2 separate regions of the Homo sapiens genome follow, and region 2 is linked to region 1. The links come from fine-mapping of genetic effects on gene expression. A gene starts in region 1. The other region holds a variant in brackets. All regions are shown on one strand. Distances are between the middles of the regions.

The links.
Region 2: its variant is fine-mapped to the expression of KYAT1 in whole blood (TOPMed, PIP above 0.99).

The regions. Positions count from the first base shown.
Region 1 is chr9:128,880,926-128,883,425 of GRCh38, reverse strand. KYAT1 (kynurenine aminotransferase 1) reads left to right here and starts at 1,476. Exons shown (of 13, transcript NM_004059.5): 1 at 1,476-1,529. KYAT1-SPOUT1 (KYAT1-SPOUT1 readthrough) reads left to right here and starts at 1,476. Exons shown (of 25, transcript NR_182311.1): 1 at 1,476-1,529. It overlaps LRRC8A (leucine rich repeat containing 8 VRAC subunit A), which reads right to left and starts at 1,293. Exons shown (of 4, transcript NM_019594.4): 1 at 1,176-1,293. RefSeq lists a silencer at 947-1,226 and an enhancer at 1,257-1,406.
Region 2 is chr9:128,831,908-128,834,916 of GRCh38, reverse strand. It overlaps KYAT1-SPOUT1 (KYAT1-SPOUT1 readthrough), which reads left to right. Exons shown (of 25, transcript NR_182311.1): 12 at 1,091-1,177; 13 at 1,274-1,690. KYAT1 (kynurenine aminotransferase 1) reads left to right here. Exons shown (of 13, transcript NM_004059.5): 12 at 1,091-1,177; 13 at 1,274-1,975. The coding sequence ends at 1,333. Among named protein-coding and RNA genes, the nearest start is that of SPOUT1, 3.6 kb to the right of the region's middle. The variant C/A (reference allele first, on the strand shown) is at 1,674.

The DNA of each region.
Region 1 (2,500 bases):
CACATCCCCTCCACAGGAAGTATCAGCAACAGCCGATCTCCTCCCGCTTCTTACAGCCTGTCTGTCTGCCAGGTTGTCTGCTCCAAAGGGCAGAATACAGTTTGGCAGGGGTTAAGAGTACTACTAACAGAAGAGGTGGAAGAGGTCCTTGGGAACTTCGGGCTCCCCCAGTTCCCTTCCTCTTACCAGGTGCTCTCCCTCCACACCTCATTCTCAAAAGGCTTCCTGAGGTAGGGCAGGGGAAGAGGAGTCAGTGGAAGTGTGGCTCACCCAGGAACCGCCCACCCTTCCAGCCAAGTCTCCATCAGGAGGCGGCTACCAGACAACCCCCGACCCATCCCTCCTTCCCAAAAAAGGCAACAATCGCAACAGCTGAGAACCGGCAGACCTCGGTTCACCCCGGTCCAGATCAAGGGGAAGAAGCAGTCAGCGAAAGCAGCAGAATCATCATGAACTCCATGACCCCAGCTATGCCCCTTCAGCCTGGGAGCTCAGTTTGCTGGGTATCCAGCTCACCTAGGGCTGCACCAGGCCTGGACCTCACTGGATCTCGCCTCGCCCTCGGGCCCACCTGAATGCACAGGACTGGGACAGGGTCTGGGTTCTTAGATTCCGGACCGGTCTTCCCAAATATCCCATCCCAGAAAGGCCCCAAGAGCCTAGCCGGGGATCCTGCCCCCAAGTCAGGGCACTGCCCCCATCGGAACGATAGGAAGGAGGGGTGCAAGGGAAGAGAAGGGGACCAGGAACTCAGGAGAAGACAGCTAAGGAAATCTTTGAAAAAGAAATGGCAAGGAGAGAGCCCAGAGGTGGAACCTCTAGGAACGGGAGAGTGTGTGTGGAGGGGTGAGGATCTGGGGGGACCCAGGGGATGACAAGGGGACATGGGGGAGCCGAGGCGGAAACTCCTGGTTTCTGAAGCACAAGGAGGCACAGGGGTGCCTGGGAGGGGGCTCGCGCGCCGCGGAGCCGGCGAGAAGGTGGTGCCCCGGAGACTCCGGGCACTGGGGAGCCCAGAGGTAGGCCGAACACCGCGGGAGGTCCCCAGGGGGCCGGCCCGGAGACAGAGCCCCAGATGCCCCGGGCGCCCCGGGCCGGGCAGCTGGCCGAGGGCGTGTGTAAGTGGGTTTCGAGAGGTGACAGCTCGCGCCCCTTTCCCCACCCCGTCCACTCACCTGGGCTCGCCGCGCCCGGCCGCCCGGCAGGCAGCCCCAGGCCCCGGCCGCTCCGTCCCGCCGCCGGCCGCAGCGCTGCTCCGGCGCCTCCTTTTGTTTGTCCCTCACTGCACCACTCAGCCTCCTCCGCCCCGGAAGTGACGTCACCGCCGGGCGCGAACGCGGCGGCCAGGGCGTCGCCATCTTTATGAGGAGAATTCTAGCGGCGCTTTCTCCCGCTCTCGCCTCCGCGCTAGCGCCCTGCTGCTTCGGGGCGGAAGTAGCGGAGCCGGGCTCGGCCCCCTTAAAGGGACAGGGACTGCTGCAACCTACGGGGTGTACTTGGGAACGAGGGGTGAAGCGGCCCAGGTGAGGGTGAGTAGCTGTGTCGGAGCGCCACTTCCCCAAGGTCAGGTGCCGAGGCTGGGAGGGTCGGCTAACGGTTCCGAGCTTGGTTGTGCTAGAGTGCTTAATGAGTTTGATGCTACTAAGTATAACGGAGTGGCTGCACAGAATGATTGAGCCGCCCGCGGGAATCAACTGCGCGTGCTGCTCGCTGATTCTCGCTCGGACACTGGGGCTGGTCCTGTCTGCACCCAAATCCCCCTCCCACGACCGCGCCGGTGGAGATGATACCCGAGACAACAGAATTCTGGACAGATCTGGGGTTGGAATTGGGTCCCCAGACTCCAACTCTGCAGCTCCATAAATCCCGCTGGGTCCTCGCAAATTCCCTGGCTGATAACAGTACCGGCAACCAAATTAAAAAATAATCCATACAGTGGAATACTGTGCAGCCATTAAGACGAACAATGTTTAATATGCACTAATGTAGGGTGACTTCTAAGATACCTTAGGTTAAAAAAGGAAACAACAGTAAAAACAGCGTTGGGCCGGTTGCGGTGGCTCACGTCTGTAATCCCAGCACTTTGGGAGGCCGAGGCGGGCGGATCACGAGGTCAGGAGATCGAGACCATCCTGGCTAACTTGGTGAAACCTCATCTCTACTAAAAATACAAAAAAATCAGCCGGGCGTGGTGGTGGGCGCCTGTAGTCCCAGCTACTCTGGAGGCTGAGGCAGGAGAATGGCATGAACTCGGGAGGTGGAGCTTGCAGTGAGCCGAGATCGCGCCGCTGCACTCCAGCCTGGGCGACAGAGCGAGACTCCGTCTAAAAAAAGAAAAAACAGCGTTGATGGGTGCTATCCATCTTTGCGTAGAAGGACGCCTGAGGGTGGGCGTATCTGCGGGTGTGCGCGCCAGCTGTCTGATAAGATGCACAAGAAGTTGTTAATTGCGGTTGTCTCCGACAGAATTGGGGTCTTGGGTACCTGGGCCAGGGCGAGA
Region 2 (3,009 bases), 49 kb after region 1:
AATCCACCTGCCTCGGCCTCCCAAAGTGCTGGGATTACAGGCGTGAGCCACTGCTCCTGGCCTTTTTTTTTTTTTTTTTTTTTTTGAGACAGAGTCTCACTCTGTCGCCTAGGTGGGAGTGCAGTGGCGCAATCTCAGCACACTGCAACCTCCACCTCCAGGGTTCAAGCGATTCTCCTCCCTTAGCCTCCTGAGTAGTTGGGTAACTGGGATTACAGGCATGTACAACCACGCCTGGCTAATTTTTGTATTTTTAGTAGAGACGGGGTTTCACCATGTTGGTCAGGCTAGTCTCCAACTCCTGACCTCAGATGATCCACTCCCCTTGGCCTCCCAAAGTGCTGGGATTACAGGCGTGAGCCACCGTGCCTGGCCTGAGGAACCTGTTTCTAACTTGCACAGAGATGCTGTGTGGGCTGGCAGGATTTCCTGCCTCTTTGGATCTCCATCTTCCCATCTGTACAGTGAGGAGTTGGCCCATTAACTCTTGAGTTCATCCAGGTTTGATCTGTGACTCTAAGGCTTTGTTCTTCTCTGGCTCTGCCCTGACCTGCTCCATGATCCTCCCTCTGTCAGCCTCCCTCTGCCCTCTATACCCAGGGAGGGACTTGGAATGATGTTCTGGGATTCTTTTCTTCTGACTTTGTGTTTGTTTTTGTTTTGGATGGATTTTCTCTCTTTCGCCCAGGCTGCGGTGAAGTGGCGCAATCTGGCTCACTGCAACCTCCACCCCCGGGTTCAAGCAATTCTCCTGCCTCAGCCTCCCAAGTAGCTGGGATTACAGGCATGCGCCACCACACCCGGCCAATTTTTGTATTTTTGGTAGAGACGGGGTTTAGCCATGTTGGCCAGGCTGGTCTTGAACTCCTGACCTCAGGTGATCCACCCGTCTCAGCCTCCCAAAGTGCTGGGATTATAGGCGTGAGCCACCGCACCTGGCCTTGTTCCTCTGACTTTGATGCAGCTCTAGGTGCTGGATTGGAGCTAACTCTCCTTCCCCGCCTGGTCGTGGGAACCTCTCTGTCCCCTCCGGAGCCAAGGCCTGCTGGGCCACGAGGCCGTGTTGAGACATGTCCTTCCTCCTCCCCAGGGCTTGGTGGCCATCCCTGTCTCCATCTTCTATAGTGTGCCACATCAGAAGCACTTTGACCACTATATCCGCTTCTGTTTTGTGAAGGTAAAGGGCAGGGCTGGGGGAGGAAAGACCTCACAGAGCTTCCCAAGGCCGGCTGGGCACATGGGGAGAGTGTAGGACTAATCTGTGCTGGCGCAGGATGAAGCCACGCTCCAGGCCATGGACGAGAAGCTGCGGAAGTGGAAGGTGGAACTCTAGCCCTGAAGTCACGCCTTGGCCCTGACATCCCCACATGCCCGCAGAGATCCTCTTTGAGTGTCTGTCTTTGTCCAGGTTTCAGACATTTCTAGGTTGGGGAAGATGCTATTGGGAAACCTCTTCTCCGTGACACAGAATGTTCTGGGTGGGAGCCGCCCTTCTTCATCTTAGAGAACCAAGTGCCTCCTGTCTGAAAGGTGAGGGTGGCCTGACCTGGGCCTCTCCCTGCCCCTCCATAGGTGGGTTTGTAGGGTCTTGTGTTGCTTCTGGTCTCTCCAGGCTTGGCTGAGACGGACGGTAGACTTCCACCATGTACCGATCACATCCCAGCTCTGCATGG[C/A]CCCTGCTAAGGCTCAGGTATAACCTCACCTTCCCTGGCTCATCTTGGCCTTGGGGAGTTGCCTTTAGGCTTGAGTCCTCAAGCCTCTCCTTTTCGTCCATAATAAAATGTTTAAGTTATTAAGATCCTTATTGACGGCTTCTCTCTGCTTCACACTCATGCTGATGGCTGATCTAACTTGTGAAGAATGCCCAGAAGAACCTCAGACACCCCCACAACTTTGTACAAATGGTTACTGTAGTCACATAGTGGCACAACCAGGCCTAGCACCCAAGGCCCTCAAATGAATTCCTCACTATTAATCTTTGTTGTTGTTGTTGTTGTTGTTGTTGTTGTTGTTGTTGTTTTTGAAACAGAGTCTCGCTCTGTCCCCCAGGCTGGAGTGCAGTGGCATGATCTTGGCTCATTGCAACCTCCACCTCCTGGGTTCAAGCAATTCTCCTGCCTCAGCCTCCTGAGTAGCTGGGACTACAGGCACCTGCCACCACGCCCGGCTAATTTTTGTGTTTTTGTAGAGATGGGGTTTCACCATGTTGGCTGGGCTGGACTCAAACTCCTGACCTCAGGTCATCTGCTCGCCTCGGCCTCCCAAAGTGCTGGGATTACAGACGTGAGCCACCATAGCTGGCCTCTCATATTAATCTGATGGTAGCAGTTATTGGTGCTGGGTGTGGTGGCTGGGGTGGGGGTGTCATATGTGTTTGTGTGTGTGTGTGTGTGTGGAGAGGATTGGGGTTCGTGACAAGGAAGACATGGACATTCCCACAGGGGTGAGAGAACAGCACAGTGGGGGCCAGGAGGACCAGGGACTTAAATAATTCTCAGGAGGAGGACTGAATGTTGATCGTGCAAGCCCTACCTGCGAGGCACTCAGACGCACATCATCTTACACAACCCTCTGAGACTGAGACCTGAGTTATCTCCAGTTCACAAGAGAGGAAAGCACTCTGGAGGTGAGGTGAAGTGGTGTGCCCAGGCCTTCTAGCTGGCCCCGATTGAGTCTCACTGGATAGCAATAGTAGCTCCTGAATTTCTTTGGAAGGTGGTGTTAGGGGCCTGGTCTTGAAGTTGCATTTGCATAGCAAGCGCATGGGTTTGGCTCATATCATATGTTTAACTGGGGGAGCTGATAGGAATATATCATATAATAAAATACATATTTGGTGTTTGCCCCTGGTCCTTAGTAAAGAATTCCTAAAATCCTTGGAGTTTCTGGAAGATAGGCATGTCTTGTTAGTCACATGGAATCCCTCTGCACTGTACGATTACGGGGTCAGAACTTTTAGCCCATCGGGCCCCCTCCATCTCTGCCTCCATGGAGGTGTGAGGGACTAGA